2 separate regions of the Homo sapiens genome follow, and region 2 is linked to region 1. Evidence: fine-mapped expression QTL. Tissue or cell type: whole blood. Region 1 holds a variant in brackets; the other region holds the start of a gene. Each region is shown on its reference strand, or each on the opposite one.

What was found. PIP is the estimated chance that this variant, and not a neighbour inherited with it, causes the effect.
Region 2: it holds the start of TMEM237, and the variant in region 1 is the best candidate, but not a certain one, in a credible set for the expression of TMEM237 in whole blood (TOPMed, PIP 0.61).

Annotation. Positions count from the first base shown.
Region 1 is chr5:43,149,097-43,154,437 of GRCh38, reverse strand. All of the region lies in intron 4 of ZNF131 (zinc finger protein 131), which reads right to left. Among named protein-coding and RNA genes, the nearest start is that of ZNF131, 31 kb to the right of the region's middle. The variant A/G (reference allele first, on the strand shown) is at 2,324.
Region 2 is chr2:201,641,111-201,646,489 of GRCh38, reverse strand. It overlaps TMEM237 (transmembrane protein 237), which reads left to right and starts at 2,987. Exons shown (of 13, transcript NM_001044385.3): 1 at 2,987-3,131. The coding sequence starts at 3,090. MPP4 (MAGUK p55 scaffold protein 4) reads left to right here. Exons shown (of 22, transcript NM_033066.3): 22 at 1,086-1,616. The coding sequence ends at 1,280. RefSeq lists silencers at 2,869-3,128, 3,699-3,888.

The DNA of each region.
Region 1 (5,341 bases):
CTGACACTTCTTTTTTTTTTTTTGGAGACGGAGTCTCGCTCTGGAGCCCAGGCTGGAGTGCAGTGGCGCAATCTCAGCTCACAGCAACCTCCACCTCCCTGGTTCAAGTAATTCCCCTGCCTCAGCCTCCCAAGTAGCTGAGATTACAGGTGCACGCCACCACGCCTGGCTAACGTTTTTGTATTTTTAGTAGAGACAGGATTTCACCACGTTGGTCAGACTGGTCTCAAACTCCTGACCTCAGACAATCTGCCCACCTCAGCCTCCCAAAATGCTGGGATTACAGGTGTGAGCCACCCCGCCCCACCATGCTGACACTTCTTTAGGTTACACTGTTGCTGTTCCAGTTTCATCAGCTGGTTCTGGACACACTACTGTGGCTCTTGAAACTAATCTATGTCTTATGTTCACCTTTCTATACCATCTGCAGTCTGATAATGGTTCAGCTTTATCACATACACAAAAATGACCACAAAAGCTAATCAATAACAGTCAAGGTACTGATGGATGTTTCATGCTACCATCCATAGATACTGAGTAGCTTGTTGAGTATGGCGACAGCTTTCTCAAACAATGACTCAAAATGATTTCTGACTCTACTTCCCTCACCTCCTCTTTGTCCAAAAATCTGAGTAAAGCAGTTTGATCACTGAATTTAGCTGTCCCTAGAAAGGGATCATGTCTTCTTGGCTACTTCGTGGATAATGATGAAGACAGAAGGGGAGGGAAGTAATATAAACCCAATCTGAAAAAGCAGGATTCTGTGCCCTGAATTTTTGTTTGTTTGTTTGTTTTTGAGATGGAGTTTCGCTCTTGTTGCCCAGGTTAGAATGCAATGGCACGATCTCGCTTACTGCAAACTCCACCTCCCAGGTTCAAGTGATTCTCCTGCCTCAGCCTAAGTAGCTGAGATCACAGGCATGTGCCACCAGGCCCAGCTAATTTTGCTTTTTTTTTTTTTTTTTTTTTTTTTTAGTAGAGATGGGAGTTCACCATGTTGGTCAGGGCTGGTCTCCAACTCCTGACCTTAGGTGATCTGCCCACCTCAGCCTCCCAAAGTGCTGGGATTACAGGCGTTAACCACCGCGCCTGGCCCGCCCTGAACATTCTTAAACATTTTCTTTTCCCCCAACAATAATCCTGGAATAGCCTGGTACCTCTTAAAGGTGACAGCCTGGCCAAAGCCAGGGTTAGGAAATTCGAACTTCATTCTAGTTCAGCCATCTGGATTCTCTTAATGGAGTGACATCATCTTATAGGAATACTGACCACTTGATTGAATTCACTGCTTGCCAAGTACACTCACTTATAATAGCCCATGTGAGCCAAAGTGGGAAACATAATGGGTCTCTAAGTTTTAAATGTCCTTGCCCTTCTTGTACCTGACCTTACCAGATGAAAGGTCTGCATAAGAGGAGGGGATGACTGGAAAAGAGGTGAAGGAGGAATGACAATCTTGCCATCTAGGGAGAGAAACATCTTACGACTCCAGAAGATATAGGGCAGGGAGGGACAATAATCTTTGTCAAGCTGGGTGTGGTGGCTCACACCTATAATACCAGCACTTTGGGAGGCTGAGGCGGGAGGATCGCTTGAGTCCGGGAGTTTAAGAACAGCCTGGAGAACATAGTAAGACCCCATCTCCACAAAAAATTATAAAAGATTAGCTGGGCATGGTGGCACATGTCTACAGTCTCAGCTCCTTTGGGAGGCTGAGGTGGGAGGATCATCTGAGCCTGGAAAGTTACAGCTGCAGTGAGCTGTGATTGCACCACTGCACTCCAGCCTGGGTGACACAGTGAGACCCTGTCTCCAAAAACAAAACAAAACAAACCACCTTTGTCTTTCAGAACTGCCCCTAGAACCTTTCAAATTAAGAAAAATGCTCAGTTGCAGGTCTCTCCAATGGCTATAAGCATTTTTAAACTGACTGCTGTGTTTGCCATTCCCTGCCAAGTGGTTTCCCTTAACTTTACCAACATATCTTCTAAAAACAGCTGGGGATGACTCCTGTGTGTCGCAGGCAAAACACCATGCTCCACTACCATTCTCATAGCTGAGATCAGTCCATGAGGTGGACAGTTACTACTCAAGTCAGCTGGCATTCAGGAGCTTGTGATAAATAGGACAGACTCGGCTGGGAGTGGTGGCTCACACCTGTAATCCCAGCACTTTGGGATGCTGAAGCAGGCGGATCACTTGAGGTCGGGAGTTCGAGACCAGCCTGGCCAACGTGGTGAAACTCCGTCTCCACTAAAAACACAAAAGTTAGCTCAACCTAGTGGCACGTGCCTGTAGTCCCAGCTACCGGGGAATCTGAGGC[A/G]GGAGAATCACTTGAACCTGGGAGGTAGAGGCAGTGAGCCAAGATCATGTCACTGCACTCCAGCCTGGGCGACAGAGCGGGACTCCATCTCAATAAATAAATAAATAAATAAATAGGAAAGAAGTCAACTGACTGTCCTGTCCTCAGTCTCTCCAAAAACTAGAACTAGACTGAATCATTCTAATTGAACTGGGAAAGGAGACTACATTGGAGGCTATATCAATCTGTGCCTCTACACTGATGCAGGTTCGTGCCTACTTTGGAGGCACGAACAATTGCAAATAGTACTTTCCTTTCAGGGTTCCTATGTGCCCCTGGGACTGTGCTTCTTGTGTGGAAGCCAGGTACTAATTTCCTTGCCTCACAAAAATACGATGACTGGCAAGGCGCGGTGGCTCGTCCCTGTAATCCCAGCACTTTGGGACTCCGAGGCAGGTGTGTTACTTGAGGTCGGGAGTTGGAGACCCGTCTGGCCAACATGGAGAAACCTCATTTCTGCCAAAAATACAAAAATTAGCAGGGTGAGGTGGCAGGTGCCTGTAATCCCAGCTACTAGGGAGGCTGAGGCAGGAGTATTGCTTGAGCCCAGAAGGCAGAGGTTGCAGCGAACTGAGATTGCGTCACTGCACTCCAGCCTGGGCACAGAGTGAGACTCCGTCTCAAAAAAACAAAACAAAACGAAACAAAATGACGACTTACACCTAAGAGGTGGTTATAAGAGACCATCAAGTGTTTAAGGAAGATCAAGCAGCCCTCGGGTGACTGTGGAGGTCTCATTTAAGGATACTCTTGGTTAGAAATTCTCAAAGGGATGCTTCCTAGAATAATAACTGACTTATTTATGCACATCCCGTGGGCAGTTTTCCCTAATAGGAGTAATCCAATTAAAAAAGTGGTACAACATTGTGCATGACTTAAGCTGATATGTTCACTGATATCACTTGGGCTCTGGAAGGCATTTATGTCAGCTTCAAGCCACTGGGGCCAGGTTTATTATGAATGAAAAACTTGCCCTAGTAGACATCCTCCCTATGGGACAATGTGGAGCCTGTATAATTGTAAAGCATCTTGCTATACTTAGACTAATGCCCAGGGCTAAGTGGAAAAGTCAATACAGAAACCGAAAAAGAAAGTCACCTGTTTTTCTAGGGATTTGTTCAGTTGGCTGAGTCCAGAATGAACCTTAGTGTGGTGGGTGCATGATTAAGGTCAACACGGCAGGGTGCCCAAATCCTGCTGCTTGAAGTTCTGTTGACTTCAATAAATCCTTAAATAAATCCAGTAGGAGAAAAACTGAATGGATTAGGTCCTGGTCCCTGTGTTTTTTGTTTGTTTTTGGGACAGAGTTTCACTCTTGTTGCCCAAGCCAGAGTGCAATGGCGCGATCTCAGTTCACTGCAGCCTCAGCAATTCTCCTGCCTCAGCCTCCTGAGTAGCTGGGATTACAGGCATGTGTCACCGTGCCCAGCTAATTTTTTTGTATTTTTAGTAGAAATGGGGTTCCACCACGTTAGCCAGGCTGGTCTCGAACTCCTGACCTCAGATGATCCGCCCGCCTCGGCCTCCCAAAGTGCTGGGATTACAGGCATGAGCCACCGCACCCAGCCAGGTCCTGGTCCCTACGGTCAGATTAATCAGAGCGGCTAAAGAAGTGCTGTACTTATGGGGAAAATTCAGTACCAGCCAGGATAATACAGAAACAAGGATATGGAACAAGACAACTCTCCATGGATACTCATAATGTTTCTGCATGTCTTATAAACAAAGACATTGAGAGCCTTTTATTTTGGACTATCTTTTCAAAGTTGTCTGTACAGCAAAGGACTTTGGAAAACAGAGCCTGTCCTCTTCCAGAGTGGAGAGTAGGTTTATTTATTGTCCAGTATAATAATGTTTCCTCTACAGCAAAGGTTAGGCAGGTTTGCTTGCAGCTCATTATAGAAGATTTGGGTTTCCTAAAGCTCAGAATTCCTCAACTGTGATGCAAACAACTGTGAGCACGGTACACACCTAGGCCACTGTGTCACCCCTGTGGGACTAGGGGGACAGGGAACAAGAAACACTGATACAAACATGGAACTCATGCTGCTTTCTTTGCTCTAAGTAATCAAGCCCTTTTCTGGACTCAAGAGTCTCATGTCTCTTGCCGGCATCCATGAAACTGTTAGCTAAAAAGTTACTACCTTGCAAACAGGATAAAATCTCAGACCCCCACAATGCTGCCCCCTTCTTGACAATAATCCCATTTTAAAAAACAGGCAAAAGATTTGATCAGGCACCTTGCCAAAGAATACAAACAGATGGCAAAAAAGCCGATTAAAAAATATCCAACACCATTAGTCATTAGAGAAATGCAAATTTAAATCACCATATACCCACCAGCCCAGCTAAAATAAAAAAAAGCCTGACCATATCAAGTATTCACAAGGCTGTGAAAAACTGGAGCATTCATAGGCTGCAGAATGGAATGTAAAATGGCACAACCATTTTTGAAAAAGAGACTGACAGTATCTTAGAATATTAAACATATACTTACCATACAAGCCAGCTATTCTACTAAGAGGTATCTACCAAGAAAAATGAAAGCGTATGTCCAAAAACTTGTTACACAAACGTTCATAACCACTTTATTTCTAATAGCCAAAAACTTGAAACAACCTAAATGTCCATCAACAGGTGAATCAACAAATGGTGATACATCCATACAATGGAATACTCAGCAGGAAAAAGGAATGAACTACTTATACACACACTAATATACGTGAATTTCTTTCTTTTTTGATCCACCCGCCTTGGCCGCCCAAAGTGCCAAGATTATAGGCGTGAGCCACCGTGCCCAGCCTTTTTTTTTTTTCTCCCTCTGTCTCCCAGGCTGGAGTGCAATGGCACGATCTCGGCTCACTGCAGCCTCTGCCTCCCAGGTTCAAGCGATTCTCCCCCCTCAGCCTCCCGAGTAGCTGGGATTACAGGCATCCGCCATTATGCCCAGCTAATTTTTGTACAGACGGGGTTTCGCCA
Region 2 (5,379 bases), not on the chromosome of region 1:
TTGGTGCCTGCATTTGTGTTTCAGATTGTATTGGTGACAAGTTGTACTATTTTCATGAACTAATAAGAAAATAACAGCAATGAATTTAATGCATTAGTGCCAAGTGAATGCCAAATTACCTTCATTAAATGAACATTTCACAATAGTAGAAACATAATATAACTGGCTTATACCATCCTCATGTTGAAAGTGGCCATTTTGTATCTTTAATGTTATCCCTATCAGATTAATGTTCACTTGAAATTTATGTTTAAATTTTATTTAAACTGGTACATTTTCTTTGGTTTTATGTTGTATATGGTTAAAAAGTTTCAAGTGTTTAGGTAAGAGTAAGATAAGTTCACACGGGAAGTTGAGGGGAGTAATCTGTCTGCAAACTATGACTAAATTTTGCAAAACATGACGAGACATTAAGACTAAAGATTAAAACATAAGTTTTGTAGTTTAGAAGACATTTATTGGACCTCATTTTTTAAAATAAAAACTTCAGTCTTTTATTATTTAAAAAAACTTCCAAATTAAAATTTCTTTATCTCAGTAATACATTTCTAAGAAATAAAGGATGACATACTGTGGATAGTGATATACTTTTCCCAGCTTTGCTTATGCTTCACATTAATTTAGAAGGATATGTTTATACCTGTTATAATAATTATATTTTCTCTACAAAAATTAGCTGGGCATGATGGCATGTGCCTATAGTCCCAGCTACTTGGGAGGCCTAGGTGGGAGGATCACTTGAGCCTGGGAGGCAGAGGCTGCAGTGAGCTGAGATGATCCTACTGCATGCCAGCCTGGGACAGAGTGGGACCCTGTCTAAAAAAAAAAAAAATTATTTTATCTATACTTAGCCACATTATTTCAATAACAGAGGGCAAAAAAATTACTATTTTCTAGTTTGCTGGTTTTGTAGAATTTTGAAAAAATATTTTTGAAACTTTATTGAAAATCATCTGTGCAAAATTTTCGGACCTTACTGTTTTTATACATAGTTTCACAACTGAATGTGACAGCATAACAAACTGTATTTTTTCCATTTGTCCAATTAAGTCTGTACTATCCATATTTTTCTATTTCTCCTAAAGGATGAAGACCTACAAGAGATGGAAAATTTAGCCCAAAGAATGGAAACTCAGTTTGGCCAATTTTTTGATCATGTGATTGTGAATGACAGCTTGCACGATGCATGTGCCCAGTTGTTGTCTGCCATACAGAAGGCTCAGGAGGAGCCTCAGTGGGTACCAGCAACATGGATTTCCTCAGATACTGAGTCTCAATGAGACTTCTTGTTTAATGCTGGAGTTTTAACACTGTACCCTTGATACAGCGATCCATAGTTGCAATCTAAAACAACAGTATTTGACCCATTTTAATGTGTACAACTTTAAAAGTGCAGCAATTTATTAATTAATCTTATTTGAAAAAAATTTTTATTGTATGGTTATGTGGTTACCTATTTTAACTTAATTTTTTTTCCTTTACCTCATATGCAGCTGTGGTAGAAATATGAATAATGTTAAGTCACTGAGTATGAGAACCTTTCGCAGATTTCACATGATCTTTTTAAGATTTAAATAAAGAGCTTTCCTAAATAAAATAAGCAATAGTTAACTTTAGAAACTGTACTCTATGAAACGTGTTTTATGAAAACATCTTTTACAAAAAGTGCTTACTTGACTAACTCAGCAAGAAAGGTTTAATGTACACATTTCACATCTAAAATCAAAACCTACAAGAAACTGCACTGCCTTCACTATTTACAAATCGGCCTACAAGGAAAAAATTATTCTCATGAGAGGTGTGACAAACACTAATTTTCCTTAACAGCCAATATCTACATGCAGGCCTAAATTAGAAAAAGGCAATGGATTAATCCCAGAGACCTATATATAGAAAATCACAAGAGTGAAACCGTGTCTCAGAGTTAAAGAAACCAGGGACTAACAGAAATTCTTGAGCATGCAGGACGGCAGATAAAAAACAACTTGCTAAATAAAACGCCTAAACTTCTTCCATTGTGAGATTAAAAAACAAAACAAAACAAAACAAAGCAAACTGGCTGAAAGTGGTTAGTACTAACACGGATGGCTACCTGGAGTCTGTACAAAATGAGCTTGCTGGCGTCACAGCTTGAATCTTTCCCCATGTTTCACACTGACTCCCTCCAAAATTTGCACATGCGACCCATGAAGGGACATGAAGAGGTAACTGCGAACGCCAGAGGATTTTCCAGATGGCTTCTTTCCTTCCACCAATCACCTACTAATCCCAGAATCCACCCCCTAAACGTTTTCTAATAAAAATACTGTCTTAAAGCCAACACAGGGAGACAGATTAGAGCTATACTCCTGTCTCCTTGTTAGCTGACTCACAATGAAAACTTTTCTCAAAAAATCAGCGCCATAATATTGGCTTCTGTGCGTATAGGGCAACAAGCCCCGTTTGTTTGGTAACAAGATTAGGATGCCATTACAAAGTGCTGTTTCTCTTTCTTTCCCCAGATTTGAGATTTCCAGGCGCTTTCCCTGTCCCTGTATCTGTTCATCTTCTGCATCATTCTCTTCTCCATATCCACACCATTCTTCCATCTTTCCCATTTCTTTCTTAACTGTAAAACAGAATGCATGATTCAAAATATTTGTAGTTCTCTGTTACTTAAAGTGAAAGTTATCTTTAAAAAAAAACAAACCCAACCAAACCAAACGATGCAAATCAGGTAGTTTGTAGTGATATTTATGTGAGGTTGGATTTGATTTTAAGGTTGAGAAAAAGTTTTTCCAAATTTGATTTACACAGTTGTGGGATGAAGGGTAAGCAATCGGAGAAAATGTGAGAATTGCCTATATTAATACACATCCACACACCCAGGCCTGCACAGACTCGTTGGTCCTGGAGAGTAAACGCATTCCTCCCAAACCCAGCAGCGCCTGGCAGGACAGAGGCGGGCGGGGACCTGGCTCAGGGGGCGGCTGCCTCGCCAGGCGCCACGAAGCCCCGGCGTCCCACAGGTCCCGGAGGCCGCTGCGTCGCGGGGAGCTGGGCTCGGGCCGCCGGCGGTTGCGCCGGGGCAGCCCCGCGGGGAGAGCACCATGAGGACTGACTCGGGGGCTCGGCTGGAGGAGGGCCACCTGGTGAGCGGCGAGGGGCGCGTCGGCCTCGAGAGGTGGCGGGTAAACAGCTACACTTGGCAGTGGGGGTGGGTGTGTGTGGGGGGGCGCCAACGAGCTGGGAATCACTAAGGGAGGGCCTTGCTCGTGGGGTGCGCGCATCCGCCCCTCCAGTGTTCACAGGAATGGGACGGAGACGCAGGCGAGGCCGGGACCGAACTCCCGGAGTGGGAGAGAGAGGCCTGGCATGAAGTTTGCGGGGACCTGAGCCCGCGTTGCCACGACGACGCCTCACTCATCTGAGGCCCGGGGCCCGGCGGGTGCCGGGGCTTCCAGCCAGGCCTCTCCTAGACTCCTCCGAGGAGAGGTCTGTAGCTGCCCAGAAGAGATCTGTTCGCCTGCGGAGTCCTTTAATTAAGGTCTTCCGTCACGCCCCGCTTCCCGCAAACAAATCACCGCCACCACTTAGGAAACCACGGGAAAGCTGTGATTGCAGCGCCACGGTCGCCAGATTTCTGCTCCTGGGCACATTACCCCCAACTCCGAGGCCCCCTTTTTGGCAGGGCTAGTCTGGACTGGCCAATCCAGGTCCCTGCACGCCTCTCACCGCAACATCCCCGCAGGGCGCTGCGCGCGGGGTACTAGCCAGGCGGCGCGGCCCGATGACGCATTGCGCCTGCGCGCGCGACCGAGCCGGGAGGGGTGGGGCGCCAGGTGCTTGGGGGCCGGCGGCCGCCGAGGCCGGCTAAACGCAGAATGGGGAAGAATCCTGTGGTAAGCGAGCCTTAGCTACTTTTAATTGTTAGGATTTTTGTCTTCAGTTGAGCCGTCCTACTTTTGAGGATTAGAGGTTGGGTCTCTGGGTGGGTGGAACGTCATTTTTGCGGGACTTTTGAAATCAGTTACGTGAACAGAGCCCTGGGATCGATCGCGCGCGCTTCGTAGCATCTTTAGAACAATAGCGCGTTCCTGTGACTGTCATTCTTCTCCAATTGTAATTTTGACTACTGGATGGTATTACGGCAGCTTGCCTCGTCCTAATCTTGTAGTACTTGCATTAATCTACTGTTCGAACGAATGGATTGCTAAATGGGACAAACTACAAGAGTGTCTAAAATTTAACCCTTTTGAATAAATGTCTTATGCAAGCAGCATGAGATACTTGGAACATTAAATTGGCTTCTAGGCATTTCTGTTACTATATGATTCTAAAATACTTCTCAACTGTAATGCTGTCTGAACTACAAACACTTTTCTTATTCATGTAAATGAGGGTTTAGAAGGGTTCCCCCCACCTTTCTTTCTGCCCTAAAACGCATTCTTCCCAGTGTATGCAACTGGCCTTTTTAAAAATTGTGTTAGTATGTGGTTTAAAACCTCCATTTGTTTCCCATTGAATTAAAACAAAATCCAAACTTCCCTTGGTCTGCAAGGCCCTAACTAATCTGGCTCCTGCCTACCTCTCCTTGGTAATTGTGCGGCAGCCTTGCTGTCCTTTTACCTGAAACATTCCAAGCCCAATTTAACCTAAAAATATTTGCATTTGTTCCGGTTGCTGCTTTCTCATTCAGGTCTCAGCTCAAACTCAGAGAAACTTTCCCTAACAAAAGTAGCACTCAGTCTCCTTCATTCATTACGTTTTGTGTGTGTGTATCTTGTGTATATATATATATATGCACACACGATATGTATACAAGATATGTCTTAAATATAGCATATAAATATATTTTATCGTACATGCTGCATATAATATATAGTATATATTATCATATATATATTTTTAACATTGTTTCTAATACTCAACCACTAGAATGTAAGTTTCATAAGAGCAGAGTTCTCTCCATTGTGTTCATTAGTGTATTCCTAATGCTTAGAAAAGGGCCTGGCCTAGAGATGGAAAGGAATGTAGGAAGGAAGGAATTTTATATGAAATTTAGGATGGGAGAACAAATTTTAAATTGCCCATGTTTCTCATCAGTACCTCCCAGGTTTCACTGATGAACAAGATTATCAAGAGATTTGAAGATCCTAGTCTGATCCATTATATTTTTCTGTCATGTCTGAACAACAGACTTTTGAAAGAATTGCTTTGGCCGGGCGTAGTGGCTCACTCCTATAATCCCACCACTTTCAGAGGCCAAGGTGGGCGGATTTCCTGAGGTCAGGAGTTCAAGACCAGCCTGGCCAACATGGTGAAACCCCGTCTCTACTAAAAATACAAAAATTAGCCGGGCATGGTGGTGGGTGCCTGTAATCCCAGCTACTTGGGAGG